Homo sapiens: one gene and its partner. The protein of the gene in region 1 purifies or fractionates together with the protein of each later gene. This does not show direct contact. Each region holds a gene or a part of one and is shown on either strand. Other genes may lie near its edges. The genes, in order: PTCD3 and TBC1D2B.

Region 1 (9,824 bases):
ATGGTGTGGACAGCAAAATTTAGCTTTTTTATTCACTGGATATATCCTTGAACAAATTGCCTCATCTCATTTATTCAACATTTGTTGAATATGCAGGAATTAAAACTTCACAAAAGTGCTTGTTACAGTGTAGTCCTATTGAACGCATTTAGTGGCCCCTCAAAAAGCTAGGTCTTAAAATTATGTGACCTAAAGACTCGGGTTCGCCAGGCGCGGTGGCTTACGCCTGTAATCCCAGCACTTTGGGAGGCCGAGGCGGGCGGATGATGAGGTCAGGAGATTGAGACCATCCTGGCTAACACGGTGAAACCCCGTCTCTACTAAAAATACAAAAAAATTAGCCGGATGTGGTGGGGGGTCGCCTGTAGTCCCAGCTACTCGGGAGGCTGAGGCAGGAGAATGGCGTGAACCCGGGAGACGGAGCTTGCAGTGAGCCGAGGTCGCGCCACTGCACTCCAGCCTGGGCGACAGAGCAAGACTCCATCTCAAAAAAAAAAAAAGACTTGGGTTCATTTAAAAAGACTTTTTTAAGAACTTTATTAATCTGAACTGTGTGATTATTTTAGGGAGGCCAGGGAGCCCAGTGATGTCAATGCATAGGTAACTGGGATCATAAAAGAAGTGCAAATTAAAACTTACCGTATTGGCAGAGAGAGGATTTGAAGAAATACGTTTGTTTATGGGACAGTAAATTGGAACAGCTCTTTGGAGGGAAATTTGGCAGAATCAGAATTGGAAATGTGCGTACCTTACTGGTTAGCCACTTTGGAGGAACATTTGCATATATACATGGACAAGACTGTTCTTTATTACTTGGGAATAGTAACAGGTTGAAACAGCCTGAATGCCCATTGAAAAGTGAATGGATAATTTTAAAAGGTTATCATACAATAACTTTTTACATTGAAAGGAATTAATTAGCTCTATATTTAATAACATGGATAGTGCAGCCAAACTTATGTAGACACATGCAGAATGACAGTGTGTATACGTTTTTTAGGGAGATGTTTATGTGTGAAAATACCTTTAAAAGTTCTGGAAATACAAATACCAAATTCATCGTGGAGAGGGGTCACAAGATGACACCAGACACTTTAGGTTAACGTGTAATGTTCTAGTTTATTTTTTTAAGATAATGTATGATACCTTTTAAAGTAACCCTTTAAAGAAAGAGAATTAGTGAGTAATCTGAATGTCATCATTTTTTCACTGCCATTTGTTCAATATGTTAGGAAAGTTTGCTAACTTGATAAGACTTAAATAGGGCAATAAAAGATCTGCTGAAGGAATGCTGACAGATGAGAGAATGTGTCGTTATCACACTTGCTGAAATTACATAAATGTGACTTCTAAACGTGGATAGAAAATTTAGTGGATATTATGTACATCAGGGAATTAGTTTTGATGAAATATAAAATTTCCTGTACTTTTGTTTTTCTCAGATGACTTATAGTCTTAAGAATGTTATGTTAAACTTTATTTAGAAAAATACTCTTGGTATAATTCCCTTTTGGAAAGGAAACACATTAAATCTAACATAGGAGCACAAATATATTTGAGATCAAATTATCTTGTCTGTCATTTATTCCAGTGAAGCCTTTTCTAATAGTTCAGTAAAGGTCTCTACTCAGAGGTGCAGTGGACAGCTGGCCTGCAATTCTTACCATAACGTTATATATGGTTGAGAGGTTCTAAACCAGGAGGTTGCATCAGAATTATCTGGGAATTCAGTAAGAGTGTGTGTGACAGTCCTCCATGGATCTTGGGAGGCTTTGATGCAATAGGTCCAGAGTGAAGCCTGTGGTTTATTCTCCTATAACTGAATCAAGAGCTACCAATTAGGATAGTAAAGGCAACAGTAGTCCCGAAAGCTGCAGTAAGAATCCATAGGAAAGTGGGTAGAGGAAGTAGGCCAGATAGTTTTATGAGGGCGGGATGGAAATCACTAGCCCTGGGTTATGGCATTATGCACCAGGCCAGAGAGGACAGGCAAAGAGAGGAACATGTACCAACTAGGGGAAAGAACCAGCAGTTTTCTTAATTTCTAATTTATTCTAGTGACCTTGTGACATAACCAGCTTCAGATGAGATCTGCACTATGTTATTGGCCAGTACACTGAGAGTAGAATCACTTGTTCGGTTTGTGGCTATGAAGAGCCCTGATGAGGATTAACTTGTGGTTCTTATTTTTAGGGATAAAGTAGCCGTTCTTCAGGCACTTGCATCCACAGTAAACAGGGTAAGTAGGATTTTGTGTTTTTTTTTAACCTAAAACTTGGCTAATAACACACTTTTTAACTCGGCTAATAACACATTTAATACTCATACCTCGTCATTACTCAGAATTAAACTGTTGTGCGTCTAGAAAGTTTCTTTAAAATTGTCTAGGCCGGGCGCGGTGGCTCACGCCTGTAATCCCAGCACTTTGGGAGGCCGAGGCAGGTGGATCACAAGGTCAGGAGATCGAGACCATCCTGGCTAACACAGTGAAACCCCGTCTCTACTGAAAATATAAAAAATTAGCCAGGCGTGGTGGCAGGCACCTGTAATCCCAGCTACTTGGGAGGCTGAGGCAGGAGAATGGCGTGAACCCAGGAGGCAGAGCTTGCAGTGAGGAGAGATCGCGCCACTGCACTCCAGCCTGGGCGAAAGAGCGAGACTCTGTCTCAAAAAAAAAAAAATTGTCTAATCCAGCTGAGCCAGGTGGCTCATGAATGTGATCCCAACACTTTTGGAGGCCAAAGTAGGAAGACCACTTGACATCAGGAGTTCAAAACCAGCTTGGGCAATGTAGCAAGACCCCCATCTGTTTTTTGTTTGTTTGTTTGTTTTGTTTTGTTTGAGACAGAGTTTTGCTCTTGTTGCCTTAGGCTGCAGTGCAATGGCGCGATCTCGGCTCACCGCAACCTCCACCTCCTGGGTTCAAGCAATTCTTCTGCCTCAGCCTCCTGAGTAGCTGGGATTACAGGCATGTGCCACCACGCCCAACTAATTTTGTATTTTAAGTAGAGACGGGGTTTCTCCATGTTGGTCAGGCTGGTCTCGAACTCCTGACCTCAGGTGATCCACTTGCCTTGGCCTCCCAAAGTGCTGGGATTACAGGTGTGAGCCACTGCGCCAAACTTTTTTTTTTTTTTTTTTTTAATTTATTTTTTGAGACGGAGTCTTGCTGTGTCGCCCAGGCTGAAGTGCAGTGGCACAGTCCCGGCTCACTGCAAGCTCTGCCTCCCAGGTTCATGCCATTCTCCTGTCTCAGCCTCCCGAGTAGCTGGGACTACAGGCGCCCGCCGCCACGCCTGGCTATTTTTTTGTATTTTTAGTAGAGACGGGGTTTCGCTGTGCTCACCAGGATGGTCTCCATCTCCTGACCTCCTGATCCACCCGCCTTGGCCTCCCAAAGTGCTGGGATTACAGATGTGAGCCACAGTGCCCGGCCTTTTTTTTTTTTTTTTAAGAATAAAATTATTGGCCAGGAGCAGTGGCTCACATCTGTAATCCCATCACTAATCCCATCACTTTGGGAGACCGAGGGAGGCTGATTGCTTGAGGTCAGGAGTTCGATACCAGCATGGTGAACATGGTGAAACCCTGTCTCTACCAAAACAACAAAAACAAAAATTACGAGGCATGGTGGCACCTGTAGTCCTACCTATTCAGGAGGCTGAGGCAAGAGAATCTCTTGAACCTGGGAGGCAGAAGTTGCAGTGAGCCAAGGTCCTGCCACTGCATTCCAGCCTGGGTGAGTTAGTGAGACTCTGTCTCAAAAAAAAAAAAAAAAAAAAAAATTTAAAATAAAATTATCAAATCCCTTTATTTGGCAAAGGAGGAAGCTAAGGTTTTGAAAGTGGCCAGTGGCTGGTTAGGATGTTAAAACCTTAATTAAAGGCTTAATTTCACGCCTTTTATCTCGAAATGCAGTGTTTTTCTACCATACCAGTGATCTTTAATCCCTGGAAGGGCTTGTTGAAATGTATGTTCTTAGGGGACGATTTGGCTGTAGTATACCAACTTGGAGAAATAATGTACCTGTCATGCTGACAATCATGTAATGATTAATAATCTGGGTCCTGGAGCCTACTGGTTTGTTTTAATAGCCAAGCAACTAGCTTTATGATCTTAGGGAAGTTACTTTACCTCTTGATACTTCTGTTTCCTGACTTATAAATTGGGGGTTAATTATAGCACCAAACCTCAAGGTTGCAGTGGAATTATTAACAAATGAATTAAGTATACGTAAGATTTAGGATAGAGTCTGGGACAAAGGAAATTCTTGGTACATTGTATTTTGTTACTGCTACTACTGTATTGTTGATTTCATTGACATGAAATTTTCTCTGTTGGCAACTCAAGAGTAGAGTTTGTAGTCTGGTAGATACACTGAAACTTTGGTAAATGCATCAGAAATGGAACTTTCTGCTTGGTTGTATTTTTTATTAACCAAAAACTTTTAATTTCGTCTGTGGGGAAAAGTCTAAAATAATTAAGTCTTTTTTTCTGCCACAGTATCTGTATGGATATTGATCCTCCTTAAGTCGATTATTACAAGTACGCAGAATTGTTCTTCTATTGTGGATATTAAACTACATCTAAAAATGGAACTACTAGGCTGGACATAGTGGCTCATGCCTGTAATCCCAGCAGTTTGGGAGGTCAAGGCGGGTGGATCCTGTGAGCTCGGGACTTTGAGATCAGTCTGGGCAACATGGTGAAACCCTGTCTCTACAAAAAAACACAAAAATTAGCTGAGCGTGGTAGTATGCGCCTGTAGTCCCAGCTACTTGGGAGGCTGAGGTGAGGCTCACTTGATCCTGGGAGGTGGAGGTGGAGGTTGCGGTGAGCCAGGATCGCACCACTGTACTCCACAGAGTGAGACCCTGTCCCCCCCGCCACACACAAAAAAATTAAATATAAAATAAAGATGGAGCTACTAAAGATAGTGTTGGGTCTAATGTGCACTGGTGTACTCTACCAGTTTCTGAAAAAGGACTTTACTACATCTCCCTACTTGCAAAGCATTGAGATTTTCAGTAGCTCACTTATCCATAAATAGGCACCTGAAATGTAAACATAGAAATGGACCTCCGAGATATTCTCAACATTTCAATGAGAATGGCCCAGGGCCACTTTCAAATCAAAGAAGTTATAGAATTGTGTGTAGAATTGTGACTTATCTGGCCCTTAAAATCCAAGAGTTATTCGTTTATCCATTCATTCAGCAACAATATTTTGTGCCCTTATGATGCTTATCAAGCACTGTGCTGGATATAGAATTAGACACAGATATTGTGTAGTTCTAGAGGGGAAGACTGAGGTAGCACTGAGAAGGGGTTGTATCGCCAAGACTGAGAAAGGAATTCTTTTTTTTCTTTCTTTTTTTTTTTTTAAAGAGACGGAGTCTCCCTCTGTCACCCAGGCTGGAGTGCAGTGGCGCAATCTCAGCTCACTGCAAGCTCTGCCTCCTGGGCTCACGCCATTCTCCTGCCTCAGCCTCCTGAGTAGCTGGGACTACAGGCGCCCCCACCCCCACGCCCGGCTAATTTTTGTATTTTTAGTAGAGACGGAGTTTCACTGTGTTAGCCAGGATGGGGGTAAAGGAATTCTAAGCAGACATTTTAGAAAAGAGAGCTATGTGGAGAATGGGAAAGCTTTCCACTTGAGAGTGTGATAAAGAGCTTAGCATATCCAAAACCAAACCCCATTCCCTCCAAACATTCCTCACATATTTCTTTGCCATCTCATTAATGGCAACTCCATTCTTATAGCTGCTCAGGCCAAAATCCTGGGAATTGTTAGCAAAGCCTTTGTTTATCCCTTCAAAAGATACGTGTGTGTGAGGTCTCCGTGACCACTCCCAGGCTAAGAGTTATGACAGCAAGAAGATACAAAGCAAAGTCAGCAAAGAGAAAAGGCTCATTGGATAAAGACCAAAAGAAATCAGTCACAAGCTTCCAAAAGACCTCTCCAGAAGATTCAACACAGGACATGCTTAATTCCTCCATCAGTGACTTGTGACAACACATGCAAAGTGTCTACCAAAGCTCATTAGAGACCCAGTGCCCAGAGTTTTTAGGGGAGGCTGGCCATGTAGACCACCCACTGGCTGGCATATATTATACCAAGTTTCCATACTCCCAGAAGGGAAGCAGGTGTTTGGCACAAAACACGTTGTACAAACAGGTTAGGCACAGTGAACCATTCTTAGCAGTTCTAGGAATGGTGAGAACCCTTCCAATATCCAGGTTCCCAGATGGCAGCCAAGGGCCAGCCTTGGACGCAGACCTTCCTAAGGATAATGGTTTCAGGTCTGTTAACTCTTTTCTGCAAAATATCAAAATTTTAGATGCCTGATATCACTACCAGTCACCTTGGTTATTGTCGTCTTACAAGTCTGGATTAATTGCAGCAGTCTCTGTCGTCTCCCACTGCACCTCCCTGCACACTGCTCTCAGTTCAGCAGCTGTAGTGACCCTGGATCATATCACTCTTAAGAATTCAACATTGGCTTTCCATTAGTATAATTCAAATAAAAACTGAAGTTCACAACAGGGCTGCTAAGGTGAGGCTCAAGGGAAAGGGGTTTTTGAAAGGGGTAGCAGAAAGCTAGGTCCAAAATAAAACACTGCCTCCAGGTTCCAGGTATGAGCAGCTTTCCGTTGAGAGCTGCAGGGAAGCTTCTGTGCCCCCTCCCTGAGGAGTCCAGGTCAGTAAAACAGCATTAAGGATATAGGATAAGTTTTTGCTTTGGAATAAAGGCCCAAGTAAGGCACTCAGACACAGAAGAGAATAAAGAAAGCAATTCTGGGGCATTTCTCAGTGGGGCCCCTGGTGGTATTGGAGAGTTGATTATGCTCAGGTTTAGGGAGCAATTTTAATGGGTAACAGGACGTGGGAGAAGGTTCTGTTGTTCATTCCTCAGAGGGCACGGTGATATCTTCCATTTGGAGGAGGGACTCTTGGTGAAGTTGAGCGTGGGTGGATAGTGACCTTGCTTTGGAGGAAATCCTATTCTGGGATTCTGCTGTTAGGACTAGTTAATTCAGATGATTCTTACCTAGAGTTTAAAACAGTCCCCAGTGGTAGCAAACTTAAATATTAAAATCAGCCATGGGGAGGGAGGCTTAAGCCATTGCTTGCCTTGCATAATTAAAGGCAAGTCTTGTAGAGCTGAGAGTACAGTGCAGGTGTTTGTCTTTTGTCTTTTTTCTCTATATATACATGTATATATGCCCACACACGTTTGCGCATTTAGGTTACATACATAATTACAACTTACGGAATTTTTGTTTATCAAAACTCACAAGGTCCTCTTAAAAATTTAGCTAGAAAGACTTGTGGGCTGGATACAGTGGCTCACGTCTATAATCCTAGCCCTTTGTAAGGCAGAAGTGAGAGAACTGCTTGAGGCCAGGAGTTTGAGACCAGCTTGGGTGACACAGCAAGACACCCTCTCTGCAAAAAATTTTGTGAAATGGCCAGCTGTGGTGGCACACACCTGTAGCCTAGGCTACTTGGGAGGCTGAGGCAGGAGAATCCCTTGAGTCCAGGAGCTAAAAGTTACAGTGAGCTGTCTTCAAAATAAATATAGAAATTGTATTATGTCTTTTCCACAGGATACCACAGCTGTGCCTTATGTGTTTCAAGATGATCCTTACCTTATGCCAGCATCATCTTTGGAATCTGTGAGTATTTTCATATAATTTTCTAGTGTTTTATCTCTCTGGTTTGCGTACAACAGTACATAAATAATTTAGTTGTAATAACCTGGGAAAGGTTTACAAATGCTGAGAAATTGATAGACTATGTGAATCCTTTACTACTTTCTTCAAAAAGATGTACATATCGTCAATGGGGAAAGGATTTTTGGTTTTGGTTTCTAATACTTAGGGCTTTTTCACACTGGAGTGACCCACTCAGTTTAAATGGCTTGCTTTTTATATATTTCAAGCTGTGTATAAGATGCTAACTGAAATTATATCACAGTAGAAAAGGTGGGATAGTCTATAATTTCTAATTGGGATTCTGCGTGTTGTTGCATTTGTTTTTTTTTGTGAGGGGGGAGAAATTCTTGCTGAGAGTGTAACTATAATCTTGCTTGAGTTTAAATTACATGTATTTAAATCTTTTTCTTTATATAGCGTTCATTTTTACTGGCAAAGAAATCCGGGGAGAATGTGGCCAAGTTTATTATTAATTCATACCCCAAATATTTTCAGAAGGACATAGCTGAACCTCATATACCGGTAAGGAGAGGTAGTTACATTATTTACATAATACTATTTTAAATGTAAATTAAACCAGGCTTTCATGGCTAATATTTCAGTAGCTATTTGAATACCCTCAATATTTGGATGATAAGCCTTTTAAAGTGTGGAGTTAGCTTTGATCACAAGACTAACTTTAAAATTCTTTCTGTATTTATTTGCTCTTCATCTTAATATTTTCCCCATTTGATTTTTGTGACACCATGCTCTTAGGTCTTTAATTCTATGACTGAAGTTTCCTTCACTACCTCTCTATACACATCTTTCTCTTCCTTTTTTTTTTTTTTGAAACGGCATCATGCTGTCACCCAGGCTGGAGTGCAATGGTACAATCATAGCTCATTGCAGCCTGGAACCCCTGGGCTCAAGTGATCCTCTTGCCTCAGCCTCACAAGTAGCTTGGACTACAGGGGTGTGCCACCATGCCTGGCTGATTTTTTTTAATTTTTAGTTTTTGTAGAGAACAGGGTCTTGTCTCACTGCACTGCCCAGGCTGGTCTCAAATTTCTGGGCTCAAGCAAACACCCTTCTCAGCCTCTGCAATCTCTGGGATTGCAGGTGTAAGCCACTGCTGCTTGCTCTTGATCCGCTTCTTTTTTTGTTTGTTTTTGTTTGAGATGGAGTCTCACTCTGTTGCCCAGGCTGGAGTGCAGTGGCACGATCTTGGCTCACTGCAGCCTCTGCCGCCCGGGTTCAAGCAATTCTCCTGCCTCAGCCTCCTGAGCAGCTGGGATTACAGGTGCCTGCCACCGCACCTGGCTAATTTTTATAGTTTTAGTAGAGACGGGGTTTTACCATCTTGGCCAGGCTGGTCTTGAACTCCTGACCTCGTGATCCACCCGACTTGGCCTCCCAAAGTCCTGGGATTACAGGTGTGAGCCACCGTGTCCGGCCTTGATCCACTTCTTAAGCATGGGTATCTTTCTTAGATTTTTATGCTCATTTTCTCTTTTTATTGTGTATACTCTTCTGTTTCAGTGACGCTTATAATCCATTTGGTACTCTTTTGTATATCTAGCCTAGATCCCTTTACTTTGAACTCCACATTGTATTTCCAGCTCCCTCTTTGTTCTGTAGTTTTGGAGTGAGGATTTATGCAGTGTGGTGGGTATTGTGCTTAGTGCTTGTCCATACAGTGGTGAGCAAAACAGATGCGCCTCTGCCCTCCTGAGTTTGTTGGTGGAAGTACTAATCTCAGACTCATCATATCTAAACTGCTCCCATATCCCTACATCTCTCTGCTTCCCAAAGCTCACAGGGAAACACACACTTCTTGTTTTCATAGTAGAACTTGCACATAGATGAGGAAGCCAGTGTGATTGTGTAAGTCAAAATATTAAAATCCTAAACTAAGACAGTGTCTTTCTCCATTAGATTGTGAGCACCCTGAAGGTAGAGAATGCCTTTCGTCTCTGTATCCCCAGTGCCAAGCTTAATGTCTGGGGTAAAATAGTAGGCATTCAGAAAGTATTTGAATAAGTTAGTGAATGAGGTAAAATCAGCATACCTTGGGTAGTATTAAATGTTTAGATGATACACAGCATTAGAGATGAAAGGTTTAGT
Region 2 (16,366 bases), on another chromosome or scaffold:
TTCAACAGTGTATCTTGGCACTCCTTCCACAAGACTAAAGAGAGGGGTGCCATTCTTATTTTCACAGCTGCATATTATTCCATTGTATGAATACATAATAATTTTTGTAACCAGTCCTCTATTGATGGTCATTTGAGTTGTTTCCAATTTTTTTTAATTCCTGAAAATGCAGCAATGGATAACCTTATATGGATTTGATTAAGTGTAAGAATAAATACATCCATGAAACACATTCTCGAAAGTGGAATCGCTGAATCAAAGGGTATTTGCAGTTGTCATTTTAGCAGATGATGCCAAATTGCTTTCGTTAAGCGTTGTATTGATTTATGGCTCAGTAAATACTGAATAAATGAATGAATAATATTTTCAATTTCAGTCATTTTGAGGCCCCCAGCATGCAGGAAAAACCAGCGGAGAGGGCTATGGCTGGTCCAGAGAAGTCACCAATGTTATCGTGATCCTTTTGGTCCCTCAAGGCCACTGAGTGACTTCGTCTTGCCATCTTTCTACATGGCTGCTGGTTGGGGAGGGCAGTGTCCAGAGAGGTCCCCCTCAGCCCTTCTCCCACCAAACACAGGTGGTTCTATTTTATCCTTAGGACAATGGCCAGGTACTGGGCTGGGAACTTTCCAAGGGCCTATAAAAAGATCTGAGACCTGGAAGAAACAAACAAACAAACAACCAGTATTGGCTCCAAAATTCAAAAGGAGAAAAATGCAAAATCACAATGAATAAATGTATAAGTAAATGTCTATACTATGTAATATTGCATCAGCTTCATTTCGTATTCATAAAAGTTTCATCACATCTGAAAATGGTTTGGAGGCCAGATTATCTTAGCTCACAAAAATCCTCAAGTGTGCAAGAAGACTGCCAAGAAATCATTACCAATTGCAAGTGAAATGAATTCCTCAAGGCCAAATCATTTCAAAAGCAAAATCATAAGAATAATCCTTTCCAAAAAGCTTAAAGCAAAAGACATATATATTTTTATTGTAAAATATGGCCATGCCATTTAAAAATTACATATATTTGATAGTAGTGAGATGGAGACTCCAAAGGTGAGAGTGCCCTGGACCTACCACGGTCTTAAAAACATTGCCAACCTCATCTGCGCCATAAAGCACCCATCTGGGGGGCTCTGGGCCTGTAGTCTCTGCTCCTGACAGCCCAGAGCGGAAAACCACCCCTTAGATCAGAGAGGCTCCCTTGTCAGTGTACCTCTCAGTTTCAGCAGCAAGAACAAGACGCAAGTTAATTTTGCTATAGATAATCCAGACTCACTAGTGAGTATTTCTGAGTCCCATGTAAAAGTGAAATTCTTCAGAGTTGCTTGCTGTTTGCTCATGACAGCTGGAGAAGGGACGAGATTTTGGGATCAGTTTAGGGACCATAGGGAAGACAAGGGGCCAAGGACCATAATTTTGAGAACCCTCATTCTACAGCCTTTTGGAGGCCAGATGGCCACCGTGGGGCCCAGCTGCAGAGACCTGGTACACCTAGCAACTTGGGCAGCTGGGGCCCCTGGGCTTGCTCCTCAATTTAGTCCTATCCCTGTCTCCCTTCCCCTCACTTTACAGCTGGGAAAACAGAGGTCCTCCGTAGATTCCTAATGATTTTGAGCCCTTACCAGGTGCCAAGTACTTCACATACACACATACATGATTTCCTTTCATCTTTATAGCAGGTATACAAGGTAGCATTACTGTCCCCATTTTTTCCCATTATAAAGACAGGGACACTGAAACTCAAGAATGGAAATGGCCTGTCCAAGACAAGGAGTAAGTCCATGGCAGGGCCAAGTCGAGAATCTCGTACCCCATCCTCCTCCCCTATACATGCTGCATCCTCCTCCCATGCCATTGCTCCAGCCATTTTCCCTGCTACCCAAATTCTTTAAATACTTTAAAAATGCATTAATTCAAAATTAATAGTCAATGTAGTCAAACTTCCAAATAAGAAACACATTTAAAAACATTCCTCCCACTCCAGAATCTACTTCTTCTGGGTCTTTTCTGTGCCTGTCTTCATGTATCCTGACTGCCTTCTTCCCGCTTCCCTCTTCATTGCTTTGCTCACATAAGTACGCCGTAAACTCCTTTCGTAGACCCCTTCGCCCAACCAGAAGAATGCCTGAACTTCCACCATCAGAACAGCATCTCTTTAAGCTGTCAGTTAAAATGCCCCACCTTCCAGACTTGGCCTCAAAGTAGGTTTTAGTCCCTGCTGCTTGTGTGGGAAGGGTGGAAGTGTCCGAGATCAGATTTGGCTGAGTGATGGGGGCACTGGGAAGGGGACAGCATGAGGGCCTCTAGGAAGCAGAAAGGTGAAGGCAGAGGGGACTACGCTGTGCTGGGCCGGGCGCCAGGCCCTGGGAACAGGGTGGTAACAGGAAGGACACAAGGCCTCTGCAGCTGCGGCCCATTGCCTCCTCAGGGTCTAGTGCTCCCCTGCTCCTGGGGCAGTGTGACTCTCCCTGTCTCCCATGCTGGGCTTGACTGCCTGGTACCAAGCCCCTGCCAACCCTCTACCCTCTATCAGCTCCCAGAGACACCCAGACCTCCATCTGTCTGAGCCTCGGTCCCCTGGCCCCAGGGCTGGGAGATTGGCCAGCACCTCAGATTTGTTCCCTCTCAGAAAAAGAGCCAGGAGGTATGCAAATTTGACTGCCAATTTGGTAGGGAAATGAGGCCTACTGGAAGCCAGAGTCCACAGTCCAAGATGGTCTGAGAGCCCTGGGCTCCCTTGCTGGGGCTGTTCTCTCTGAGGCTGTCCCACCTGACAAAACTGAGAGCTTCCTGCAGTGGGGCCAGGCCTAGTCTTGTGGTGAGTTTTCAGCACCACCCATCACCAGCCAGAGGCAAAGAGCAGGAGCCAGGGATGTTTGTTAAATGAATTAGTTACCAAACTGAGACTTGTTGTACGTCAGCGACTGTGTCCAGTGTTTTGCATTTACTGGCTCATTTAAGCCCCTAGCAGCTCTAAGGGGTAAATGTTATTATGCCCCATTGTACAGATGAGGAATCTGAGGCACAGAGAGGCTGGGAGATTGGCCCAAGCGCCCATAGTTCCTTATTTATTTACTTAGAGACAGGGTCTCACTTTGTCACCCAGGCTGGAGTGCAGTGGCGCAATCTCAGCTCGCTGCAACCTTGACTTCCTGGGCTCAAGCAATCCTCCTGCCTCAGACCCCCAAGTAGCTGGGACTATAGGCATGCACCACCATGCCCAGCTAATTTTTTGTAGAGATGGGGTTTTGCCATGTTGCCCAGACTGGTCTCAAACTCCTGAGCTCAAGTGATCCACTCGCCTCAGCCTCTCAAAGTGCTAGGATTACAGGTGTGAGCCATCAGGCCCAGCCCCCTTCTTTATTTTGAAACCACTCCCCCACCACCCTACCCCTGCCCCAGTACCCCCAACAACCTCCCACCAGGGCAGTAGGCTTGGTGCAGGGTGCCCCCTTTCAGAGCTTTGCGGACATACCTGGAAAGCCCTCTCTCTGGTCTGGGGTCTCCCTGTGGCAGCTGTGTGCTCTGGTCAAAGCATCCTCTGCTCTGAGGATGGGCTTGCTCTTCTCTGCCCTGCCCCTAGCCCTCCAGCGCTCGGCCCATTCACAGCTCCAGTCCCCCAACCTTCTTCACCCACCCCATCCCCTCCTCATCAGGCCAACTTCCTTCACAAGGACCTACGAGGATAGCATTGTCCAACCCCCAAGTAACACAGCTATCTCTGCTTCTGTCTGCCTCAGGGACACAAGGCCTTCATTTGTGCCCCGGATGGGGGTGACGATTAGGGCTGCTTCTCCTTCAGGGCCCAGGGTCATAGGATGCAAAAGTGTCACCTCAAAGGGGTCATGTTTGCACCAACTGCAGTGGGCAGCCAAGCCTGTAGATGGAGTGGAGCCCTGAGGGGATGGGGCAGCTTGGTTGTGATGGCTGCAACAGTCCAGAGGGCTTTGAGCAGTGGGACTGAAAAGAGCATAGCCTCCACTGGCCTGCAGAGCTGTGGGAAGAATGACTGCAGGCCCTCACAGCTGTGTCTCAGGCCACTGTTGTGTTTCTGAGCAGGCAGGGGCAGGCCTTTGGACATCACTTAGCCATCCGTCTCCTTGTTGTGCAGGTGGAAAACTGCAGCCCAGAGAGGGCAGGGACATGCCCTGGGGCATACAGCATACAGGTGATAAGGCTGTTTTCCTCTCTGGGCCTCCTGCAGATCTGTGCACTCCTCCAACGGGAGGTCAGCATCTCGGCCAGCTCTGTCTCCCTGGAGTCTGACAGCTACAAAGGCAGTGTGCAGTGAGTGCTTCTTCAGAGGCCTCTGGGCACATGCTACCAACTCTGGGGAGACTGACCTAGGATGAGTCACTGGCTCTGTGTTCCCCTAGGGTTTTCCCAGAGGCTGGCCATGTAGGAGCAAGTTTACTGCCCAAATTTCCCCTTTTCAGTAAACACCAGCTACTTCCTCCTGGGTGGTTACTTCCTTCTGGTCACTGGGTTCCTGGACGGCTCGAGGAAGCAGGGGCTTACATGGGCATGCAGGGCAGACCCCTCAACACCTCTCATGCCTGTACTAGATGCAGGGAAGGTACACAGGCTGTATAAAGCTGGCCCTGACCACAGGACATCACTGTTTAATCTAAGAGACCTCAGGAACTGCAGATGTCAACAAACCATTTACGAAGGGTTTCAGGGAATTAGGAGCCACCAGAGACAGCCCCAACATTTCCATGTAGGAGGCCCTTGGGAAGAACTGAAGCTATATCTATTTACATAAACTATAAACATTGTCCAGACTGAAGATGGAGGTACTAAGAGAGATGAGATAAAGCCCCATTGCCTAGTTCTCCTCAGCTCATGGCCCTAGGAATGAGGGGAGAAGGGTTTGTTCACGAAATAAAAAGCATTTCAGCAGGGTCTTGAGAGAGTCAGTGGGGAAGAGGGGCCTGGGGGAGGTCTAGAGAGTCAAGAGGGTTTTAGGGTTGATTCTGGAGGCTCTAGGGATCCTTGGAAGGCTTGGGCCACTTCCTAAGCCTGGTCGGGTAGACAGAGACTCAGGGCCCTCCAGGGGACCCTCCTGAGACATTGCTGTTGGCTTTGAGGCCTCCATACTTTACCACTCTCACTGGGGACTCAGGCCTGTGTCTGTGCAGCCTCCTCAGAGGGCCATATTCTGGACCCGGCCAGACCGAGGCAGGGGCCAGGCCAGTTTATCCCCTAATATACTAAAAAGCTCAGTGCCTGGGCCTGCCTGCTTGAGAGGCCTGTGAAATGTTTGTGGCCTAAGAAAAATGTATTGGCTCTAAAACCCAAGAAAAACAGCAAAATTAGAATTAATGAACATCTAATTAAATGTCTACAAATGTAACATGTCACCTTTATAGTCATCATAAAAATGTCATAACAGAGCTGGGCACCTTGGCTCATGCCTTAATCCCAGCACTCTGGGAGGCCAAGGTGGGAGGATCACTTGAGACCAGGAGTTTGAGACCAGCCTGGGCAACATAGCAGAGACCTATCTCTACAAAAAATACAAAAATTAGCTGAGCGTGGTGCTGCGCACACCTGTGGTTCCAGCTACTCAGGAGGCTGAGGTGGGAGGATTGCCTGAGCCCAGGAGGGGGAGGTTGCAGTGAGTTGAGGTAGCGTCACCGCACTCCAGCCTGGGTGACACAATGAGACCCATCTCCAAAAAAAAAAAAAAAAAAAAGGTCATTACATTTGAGAACAATTTCTAGGTTAGGTTTCTCTCACTTGGCCAAAATTCCCACACAGACACGATGATTGCCAAGAAATCAGCCAATTAAAAATGAAAATGAAAACTCATAATTAGATAATATCAAGAGCACAATTATGGATATTCCTGAAAACATTTTCATAGCAAAAATTATGTATATGTTTACTACGGGATGTAGAGCATTTTAATATGTTTGATATGATGTCAGGTGTGGCCTCCAGAAGGAAGAGGGCAGTGGCTTACAAGCATTTTATTTATTTTTATTATTATTATTATTTTGAGACAGAGCCTTGCTCTGTTACCCAGGCTGGAGTGCAGTGGCACGATCTTGGTTCACTGCAACCTCCTCCTCCCAGACTCAAGCGATTCTCCTGCCTCGGCCTCCTGAGTAGCTGGGATTACAGGCACGTGCCACCGTGCCTGGCTCATTTTTGTATTTTTAGTAGAGATTGGTTTTCACCATGTTGCCCAGGCAGGTCTCAAACTCCTGACCTTGTGATCTGCCCTCCTTGGCCTCCCAAAGTGCTGGGATTACAGGCGTGAGCCACCACACTCAGCCCTGCAAGCATTTTAAAATGGCCCCAGCTCATCTGTGCTGGGTGACCAGGGAAGGATTGGAGGCTCAGGTGTAGGGGAGTCAGGCTGAAGTCCAGCTTGCCCACTGAGGGGCACAGACAGCAGGTACGGTTCTGCATGCCAGGCCCTGGCGGATACAGCAGTGAACAAACCAATCATTCTCCTACCCTCGTGGAGATTATATTCTAGTAAGGCAGGGAGGTGACACACAAGAAAGCAGATAAAAGTAATGTGTGCTATGTTGTATAAATGCCGTGATGACATGTAGATGATTACCGCTTAAAACAGCACCCCTGTCCCGTCCCATCTGCCTAGCCCTGGCCAGCCAGCCCAGACTCTTAGTCCAGGAGGGGGGCTCGTGGCTTGTGCCTGTGAAGGATGCCTTCCTCGGGCCTAGCAGACATCGGCCCCCGTGAGACACCTCATGGGGCTTGGTCCTGTCCACTGGGACCACAGGTCATGGCCACCCCCACTTCCTTATAACTTACTGATAGATCTAGGAGAGATGGGCTACACCCTCCCCTGTCCTGTTGCCTCCCTGTACCATGGCAATACAGACCGGGTTCTCCCAGCTCTTCCCTTTCCCACAGTATTTCAAGGTCAGACCTCACCCTGACTGCCTACCCCACAAGCCAATTAGTCACAGCCCCTTTTACATACATGGTGAGGCCCAAATTGAACTTGGGACCCCTTGCTCCCGAGAGCAGCCCACTCCACTCCCGCAGCACCGCAGTGTCTGGCCTCCCTTGTCTGGGCCCGGTCTGACTGTTGGATTCCCCCTCTCCGAATCTGCTGACTGATGAGGAAGACATCGGTGTTAACTGCAAGATGATAATAATAACAGCTGATATGTGCTGAGTGCTTACTATGTGTGAGGCACCGTGCTAAGCACTTTCATATGCATTTCTCACGTAACCCTTTCAATAACAACAGCACGAGATAGCTACTTGTATTTATCAACCCTGTTTTATAAATGAAGAGACTGAGGCCCAGAGAGGTTAAATCACTTGCCCAAGGTCATGCCTCTGGTAAGTGGCAGAGCTAGGAGACACATCTGGTCAGTGTGAAGTCAGAGCCCAGTCCTTAACACTGTGCTGATTGTGCTCAAAGACAGGTGGAGAGGTCAGCCACACCTCTGATGGGCCCCAGGAAAGGAATGCTTGCGTGGTGCCACTTTAGGGCCTGCAGAGAGTCGGCAGGCTGGGTGAGGACCCAGAACCTGCCCTTCCTACCTGGGTGGCTCCAAACAGGCAGTCTAATTTGTGTCCCTGTCCAGCTCAGAAAGGTCAGTTTTCCACCTGGGTCTTTCAGTGTGTCTGTATAAAACATGCAAATCTATGAGGGTGAGATATTTGGTTTGGGCTTTCACAAATGTAGCTATGTAGCTATACACTTCCTTTTTCCTTTGAATAAAGTGAGCTCTTGTACTCACTATTCCCTCTCCCTGGAATGCTTCACCCACATTTCTGGTTGCCCCTGTCCCTCCCATCATCTGGGTTTGTGCTCCATGTCACAGGATCAGACCAGCCTCCTTGCCTGTCCTGGGGCAGCAGCCTGCTATCTGCCCCCCATCACTTCATCCTCTCACTTTGCTTTTTACTTATTTTTTATTCTTGTGGGAACATAGTAGGTGTATATATTTATGGGTTACATGAGATATTTTAATACAGGCATGCAATGCATAATAATCAAATCAGGGTAAGTAAGGTATCCATCACCTCAAGCATTTATCCTTTGTGTTACAAACAATCCTATTATACTTTTTTTTTTCTTTTTAGACAGAGTTTTGCTCTTGTTGCCCAGGCTGGAGTGCAATGGCGCAACCTCGGCTCACTGCAACCTCCACCTCCGGGGTTCAAGAGATTCTCTTGCTTCAGCCTCCCGAGTAGCTGGGATTACAGGCATGCACCACCACGCCCAGCTAATTTTGTATTTTTAGTAGAGACAGGGTTTCTTCATGTTGGTCAGGCTGGTCTCGAACTCCCGACCTCAGGTGATCCACCCACCTCGGCCTCCCAAACTGCTGGGATTACAGGCGTGAACCACCGCGTCTGTATTATACTCTTTTGGTTATTTTTAAACGTACAATTATATTATTTTTGACTGTAGTCACCCTGTTGTGCTAGCAAATACTTGGTCTTATTCATTCTTTCTCTTTGCTTTATTACAAAGCAATAGATTTGCCTTCTCAGGTTGTGAGTGTTCAAATAAGTTAGTCTATAAAGCACTGATAAATACTAGGTGCTATTTTAAGCGGTAATCATTTACATGTCATCACGGCATTTATACAACATAGCACACATTACTTTTATCTGCTTTCTTGTGTGTCACCTCCCTGCCTTACTAGAATATAACCTCCACGAGGGCAGGAGAATGATTGGTTTGTTCACTGCTGTATCCGCCAGGGCCTGGCATACAGAACCGTACCCGGCATTCAGAAGGCGCTCAATAAATATATGTTGAATTCAATAAATGAACTGAGGTCTGGAGAGGCAGGAAACGCTTTGGCTTTCATGAATTCTGCAAATATTTACTGAGCACCCACTCAGCACCAGGCAATAGGCTGTCTCATTTTTACAATATTAGCTTGAGACTCTGGCAGGAGGGAGATTTAAATATCAAGTTTTTAGAATAAGATACACAGTGTGAAATGCAGTTTTAAGCGGACACTCCGCTGGGTTTTGAGAGATGCACACTCCCATGTACCTACACTGCCATAAAGAAATAGACCATTGCTTCATCCGGCAGGGCGAGGACTTGGAGCCCAGGTGGCACGAAGGCAACTGACCCGCGGGGTGCTGGTCGCAGGACCCTGCCTCCGGGGGCTGAGGGGGCAACGGCCGGCGGGCGGGCGGGGGCGAGACTACAAGTCCCAGGGTGCTTTGCGCGCCCGCGGGCCGTGCGGAGCGAAGGGGCGGTGCGGAGGGGGTAGGGGGCGCAGCGGCCGCGGCGCGGAGGCGCAGGGCGCGGGCGCCTACGGTTGGCGCGCGGTAGCGATGCCGGGGGCCGGAGCCCGGGCGGAGGAGGGCGGCGGCGGCGGCGAGGGCGCGGCGCAGGGGGCGGCCGCGGAGCCCGGGGCGGGTCCGGCGCGGGAGCCAGCGCGGCTGTGTGGCTATCTGCAGAAGCTGTCGGGCAAGGGCCCCCTGCGTGGCTACCGCAGCCGCTGGTTCGTGTTCGACGCGCGCCGCTGCTACCTTTACTATTTCAAGAGTCCGCAGGACGCGCTGCCCCTCGGCCACTTGGACATCGCGGACGCCTGCTTCAGCTACCAGGGCCCCGACGAGGCGGCGGAGCCGGGCACGGAGCCGCCCGCGCACTTCCAGGTGCACAGCGCGGGAGCCGTCACGGTGCTCAAGGTGGGACCGCTCGCCCCAAAGCCGCCCGCGCGCTTCCGCCGGCGTCCCCTGCCTCCGCCACTGGCTTGCGCCATCCACCCTCCTTCCTCCAAGGCCTCCTCGCCCCTGCCCACGTCGGCCTGCCTTTCCCTGCTTCTCCACATCCCGCCCTCGTTCCTATCTCCTCCCCACTATCTGGGCTTAGGCCAGTCTCGCTGGGGCTACCAAGCCCCGTCTCCTTTCTCAGACACCTTGACCCATTATCTCCCTCTGCGCCTAACCTCGGGCCAGTCTCTGGTGTCTCCCGACCCCCACCATCCCGTGGATGTCCTGTGCAGCCTTCCCAGGCATCCGTGAGCGTAGGCTTCTACCCCTGGGGCCTCCTTTAGAACTTTGCCTATGGCCTTGGTACCTCAGTGAACCGCTCTGGGCTGCAGCGGCCTCCTCTGTAAAATGGGATAACAGTAGTATCTACCTCATGGGGTGTTGGGATTAAATGAATTATACTTTAAACTGCTCAGTAAATGTCAGTGCTTTTATTTATTTGTTTATTTATTCTTTTTGAGACAGGATCTTGTTCTGTTGTCCAGGCTGGAGTGCAGGGGTGCGATCTCGGCTCACTGCAGCCTCCATGCCTGGGCTCAAGAGATCCTCCCACCTCAGCCTCCCAAGTAGCTGGGACCACAGGTGCGGGCCACCACGCCTGGCTAATTAAATTTTTTTTTTTTTTTAAAGAAACGGGGGTCTCACTATGTTGCCCAGGCTAGTCTCGAACTCCTGGGCCGAAACCATCCTCCCCATCCAGCTTCCCAAAGTGCTGGGATGCCAGGCGTGAGCCAGAGTGCATTTAGCACTGTAGACAGAAAGAGTCAGATGGCAGGGCCCTTAGAGACAGTCCACTACATTTTCCTCCAGAGTGGACGGGGATGCTCCAGCTAAGGTCACACAGCCAGTAGGTGGCAGATCCTGTGTTCTTCCTCCTTGCTTTGTCCAGGATGGGTGGGAGGGGGTCTTTTCAGCCAGTTATGCCTTGCTCCTTTGAGGCTCCCTTAATCCTCCAGTGGACAGACAAAATGAGAGATACAGTGTAGAAGCAGGAGAGTAGAGTCAGGAGTCCTGGTGCTGAAAGGCCTCCCCTGTCCTTGGGAGTTCTGGGGGACTAGACTGTCACCTCCTAGGGGCCCACCTGCTTTGAGCATCTGGAGGGATCTGGGCCCAGGCCTGGAGCTGGGTATCCTTTTTCCAGGCTTTGCTCCCTGCCTGGTTTCTGTGAGTCTCCACCCTCACTCTCACTCCTCTTCCGTATTCCAGGTTGGGCTTTCTCCAGAGCAACAGGGTTGGGCTGGGATGTATGAAAGTGCTCTCAAAGCTGGCCACACGGAGAGCAGACTAGGCAAACTCCTGGCCTTGTGAGCTGAGGACTGTTCCTCAGACCCCCAGAGCTGCTAACAGCTGGAGCTGCTCCCTGGAGATGTTCTTAGAGCTTTGCTGACTCAGCTTTTGCCAGTTCAAGCAGGATCTGATTCCCATGTTCTCTTGGGCTCCCCTGTCCTGTCTGTAAGTGGGTGCAGACAGCCTGTTTCCCCAAAGAAAACCAACTCGGGTTGCAGTCCTACACAGGCTTACTTAGAGAGTGCCTGTATAAACTTGGTAATGACCCTAGTGGGAGACCTTTGCCAAAGGCAGAGGCTCTTCCTCAGTGTACATACGGGCTGTCCCTGTGTCGGACGAATTTCCTGTGGGATGTTTGTTAAAGAAAATAGAGCATCGTGTTTCACATTTTTCCCAGATGACTGTAGAACTCTATCAGTTTTTTTCATTAAAATAATCTGAATCTCCTGTAATCCCAGCACTTTGGGAGGCCGAGACGGGTGGATCACGAGGTCAGGAGCTCGAGACCATCCTGGCTAACACGGTGACACCCCATGTCTATTAAATATACAAAAAATTAGCCAGGCATGGTGGCGGGTGCCTGTAGTCCCAGTTATTCGGGAGGCTGAGGCAGGAGAATGGCGTGAACCCGGGAGGAAGAGCTTGCAGTGAGCAGAGATCGCGCCACTGCACTCAGCCTGGGTGACAGAGTGAGACTCCATCTCAAAAAAAATTAAAAAAAAAATAATAAATAAGAATCTACATAAGCAGGGTTACAAGGCGCATTGTCAGAAGTGTGGCTTTAAACTTCGATGGACTTGAACTTGAAGCAGGAGTCTGCTGCTCACACATATTGGACAAATTACACCAGTTCCCTGCTCCAGTTTCCTCTTTGGTCTAGTGGGAATCATACCTTCCTCATTAGGTGGCTGTGAGGATTCTGGAGAATGTTATGGAAAATGGCTGGCGCATTTTCCATAGTGGTATGGAAAATAGTAGGCACTACATGGCATATGAAACATCAAGCAGTGTCTTTGGCCAAATATGTAGTGTATTCATATAGTGGAATATTATGCAGTAGTAAACAAAGGTACTAGAGCTATAGGTGTCAACGTGGATTACTCTCACAAACAATAAAATTGAACAAGAAGTAAGTTACACACTGATTGTGTTCAGAATGATACCACTTATAGAAAGGTTAGGAAGATCATGTGAAACAGTACTACAGATCATAAGGATGTATGCTCTTTCGCGAGGGGAAGAGCTTTATGGGGCTGATGAGCTCTGGTTTCCAGGTAGTGGTTGCCTGTGATGGGAAGAGGGAGGATGTGATTGGGAATGGGTGCCTCAGGGCTTCTCCTGTTTTGCAGTGTTTTATTTCTTGGACTGGGTCATAGGTATATCAGTGTTTGTCCTATTATGCTATCCATCTTTTTGTAGGTTCAGAATATTTCTTTTTTTAAAGAAAGGAAATACATTTTCCTTTGGGTTACTGACAATGGAGGAATATTTTGACATGTAAAATTAAATTGGTCACAGAATAAGATAGTACCGAGTGTTGGCTGTATACAACAATGGGAATGGAAATCAGGCAAGGCTTTCTGGAAGAAGGGAGGAGAAGGCCGGGCGTGGTGGCTCATGCCTGTAATCCCAGCACTTTGGGAGGCCGAGGCGAGTGGATCACTTGAGGTCAGGAGTTCGAGACCAGCCTGGCCAATATGGTGAAACCCCATCTCTACTAAAAATACAAAAATTGGCTGGGCATGGTGGCGCACGCTGTAGTCCCAGCTGCTCGCGAGGCTGAGGCAGGAGAATTGCATGAACCCGGGAGGCGGAGGTTGCAGTGAGCCGAGATCACACCACTGCACTCCAGCCTGAGCGACAGAGTGAGACTCCACCTTAAAAACAAACAAACAAACAAACAAACAAGCAAAAAACACCCCGACTCTAAAACCCTGCTCCCTTTTTTTTTTTGAAACAGAGTCTTGCTGTGTCGCCCAGGCTGGAGTGCAGTGGCACAGTCTCTGCTAACTGCAACCTCTGGCTCCCGGGTTCAAGCAATTCTCCTGCCTCAGCCTTCCGAGCTGAGGGACTATAGGCGCGTGCCACCGCTCCCAGCTAATTTTTGTATTTTTAGTAGAGACGGGGTTTCACCATATTGGCCAGGCTGGTCTCGAACTCCTGACCTCGTGATCCACCTGCCTCTGCCTCTCAAAGTGCTGGGGTTACAGATATGAGCCACCGCACCCAGCCAGGCGTGTGTTTTAAGAAAATTAAATTTCATTGTACAGTTATTTCTTTTGAGCTGTAGGAGTAAAATCTTTATGGTGTAAGTATGGAAATTACCAATTTATCTTCCTTTTCGTCTTTCAAATGCAAGAACTGATTCCCTTAAGCCTTAATGTTTCACTTTAGGGCTGCCCAGCCATAGAGGAGACCCTGATTTCTAAGGATTTTAAGTTAGGATTTAGCCCTGCTCAGACTTCAGCTAGTGGTATATAATTTTACAAATACCATTTCTTATCACAGAGGGTTAAAAAGTAAAGAAAAATCAGCACTTTTCTTATTCTATTATCATATGTTTTTCTTATTTAAAAGTGTCTTTCAGCTCTCTCTGGAGAAGCTGTGGTTTTGTTGGGCTTTTTCAAAATGTTTTTCTATGTAAGTCTTAATGAAAGCTGATATAGGAATTTCTTGGGAAACTCCTCTATTCCCAAACTTAGGGATTTGATCTGGTGCCTTATGAGGTAATAGAGGCTAGAGAGGGGATGTGATTTTGCCAACATCATGAAGCTAGACTCAGACCCTCTCTGAAAGTAGAGGCTCCAGGAATAGTGAATGTCTAAAATGTGTAGTATCTAATTGTATTGTCTGTTCTGACAAGTCTGCTTTTTTTTGACTTTGTTGGGGATCGGATAAGGCGTAGTAGTAGTCTTTCCTTCTATTGCATTTAATATCTGTCCTTTTTGGATAGTGGGTATCACAAGGGAACATTTTACTGCCCAGTTCTTTACCAGGATGCCTAGTACCTTTTGCTGGACATGTCTGGAAACTGCTGCAAGGGTCTAGCAGAGGCTGATGCTTCCTGTGTGCGTCTCTCTCTGTGTGTAGGGGTGCTGGAGGCTTCTCACAGAGCTTTACTGGAATCTGAGGCACTTAGGGGAAGGAGAGCATGTGACTGACCGAGGGTGAAGCTTAAACAGCCTTGATCTTCCAGATCTCTGCAGACTTTGGAGCAAGAGAGCGTCATCAGACCGTCAGCAAATGAATTCCTCCCTCCGTAGGTGCTTGGTGCTAAATAGACATGTGTACTGGTTTCTGAGCCACACGTAACTGAATAGCTGTGTACCCCTATTCTTAACCACTTTTGTGGGAATGCACATTCCCTGGTGTTGAAATTTCTCTTAATGACAAACATTTGTCGGCTTGGGTAATCATATTGTTTTCAGTGCAAAATAGATGTGGTGAACCAGCCTCCTTTGCTGTTTGGTTCTTCTAAGCTGTTCTGCCCTAGGGCATCTGCTCAGTCTTGAAGCATTATTTAACTCTTTAAGTTATGGGAATTTAACTTTTCATGGCTTTCCAATTAGTAAGTTCCTTCAAGGCAAGTCCAGTATTGTGCTTGTGATATCACAGTGGCATTCCGTCTCCCTCTCCCACTGCCTCACACAGTCCTCATTGCAGGGGAGTCTCCATCCTATTTCCTGCTAACCAGAGGGTAAGCTCCCTAAGGACTGTGTGTATCCTCAGCTCCTGCAACAGTATCTGGCACAAAGGAGACATGCTATAAACTAGTGTTTGTGTTCCTGAAAAATTCGTATGTTGAAGTGCCAGCTCCCAGTGTGATGATATTTAGAGGTGGGGCCTTTGGGAGGTAATTAACTCATGAGGGTGGAGCCTTCACGAATGGGATTAGTGCCTTTATAAAAAGAGACCCTGGAGAGATGATCTCCCCTTCCACCTATGAGGATACAGCAAAAAGGCATTCCTTTGCAAACCAGGAAGAGGGCCCCCGCCAGGAACCAAATTGACCAGCACCTTGATTTTGGACATTCCAGCCTTCAGAACTGAGTAAATTTCTGTTGTTTAAGCCACTTAGTCTGTGGTGTTTTTGTTATAACAGCCTGAACCGACTAAGGTAAGGTGCCCAGGTAGACATTTGTTGCATGAATGAATAGAAAATGGTCACCCAGTAAGCACTGGTTTTGGTGTGAGCCCTGACCCTTTAGAAGTGATCAGCCAGAACTCCCAAATATACAGGTGTATTACATGCCATTCTTGCCTCATGTCATGGAGGTGGCAGCCATTCAGTGAATGCCCACTGAATTTAACAGACATCAGGAATCCAAAAGGGGGTTATGACTCACCCTTCCCCAGAGGAGAGAGCTTACAGTCAGTTCCATATTTTCGGGTCTCATATATTTCATGCCCATGGTCAGGACTCCAAGGACACTGTTATAGCAGAGGCAAACTTTTTATGTAAAGGGCCACATACTATTTTAGGTTTTGCGCACTCTGCCATATCTGTCACTATGCTGTTGTAGTACAGAAACAACCACAGAATGAGTATAGCTGTGTTTTAACTTTTAGTTATGGACTCTGAAATTTGGATTTCATATAATTTTCACATTTCGCAAAATATTCTTTTGATTTTTTTCAACCATTTAAAAATGTTAGCTGGGCACAGTGGCTCACTCCTGTAATCCCAGCACTTTGGGAGGCCGAAATGGGAGGATCACTTGATACCAATAGTTCGAGACCAGCCTAGGCAACAAAGTGAGACCCTATCCCTACAAAAATTAAAAAAAACTAGCCAGGTGTGGCTGGATGTGGTGGCTCACGCCTGTAATCCCAGCACTTTGGGAAGCCGAGGTGGGTGGATCACTTGAGGTCAGGAGTTTGAGACCAGCCTGACCAGCATGGTGAGACCCTGTCTCTACTAAAAATACAAAATTAGCTGGGTGTGGTGGCGGATGCCTGTAATCCCAGCTGCTTGGGAGGCTGAGGCAGGAGAATTGCTTGAACCCAGGAAACAGAGGTTGCAGCAAGCTGAGGTGGCGCCATTGCACTCCAGCCTGGGCGACAAGAGCGAAACTCTGTCTCAAAACAAAAAACAAACTAGCCAGGCATGATGGCACATGTCTTTAGTCCCAGCTACTTGGGAGGCTGAGGCAGGAGGACTGCTTGATCCCAGGAGGTGGACATTGCAGTGAGCTGTGTTTGCTCCACTGTACTCCAGCCTGGGTGACAGAGGGAGACCCTGTTTCAAAAAAATAAAATAGCAAAATAAAAATGTTAAAACTGCCCTTGCCTTGTAGATTGTACAGAAATAGGCAGAGACTGGAAATGAC

What was found.
Region 2: the proteins of PTCD3 (region 1) and TBC1D2B purify together in Homo sapiens (affinity purification with mass spectrometry; 2 studies listed by BioGRID and IntAct, with this or other methods). This does not show direct contact.

The regions. Positions count from the first base shown.
Region 1 is NC_000002.12:86,108,920-86,118,743, forward strand, and holds part of PTCD3 (small ribosomal subunit protein mS39 precursor), read left to right. Parts: intron 1-2,193; coding exon 2,194-2,239; intron 2,240-7,610; coding exon 7,611-7,679; intron 7,680-8,135; coding exon 8,136-8,240; intron 8,241-9,824. UniProt on the Homo sapiens protein: Mitochondrial RNA-binding protein that has a role in mitochondrial translation.
Region 2 is NC_000015.10:78,070,592-78,086,957, reverse strand, and holds the start of TBC1D2B (TBC1 domain family member 2B), read left to right. Parts: upstream 1-9,246; 5' UTR 9,247-9,305; coding exon 9,306-9,665; intron 9,666-16,366. UniProt on the Homo sapiens protein: GTPase-activating protein that plays a role in the early steps of endocytosis.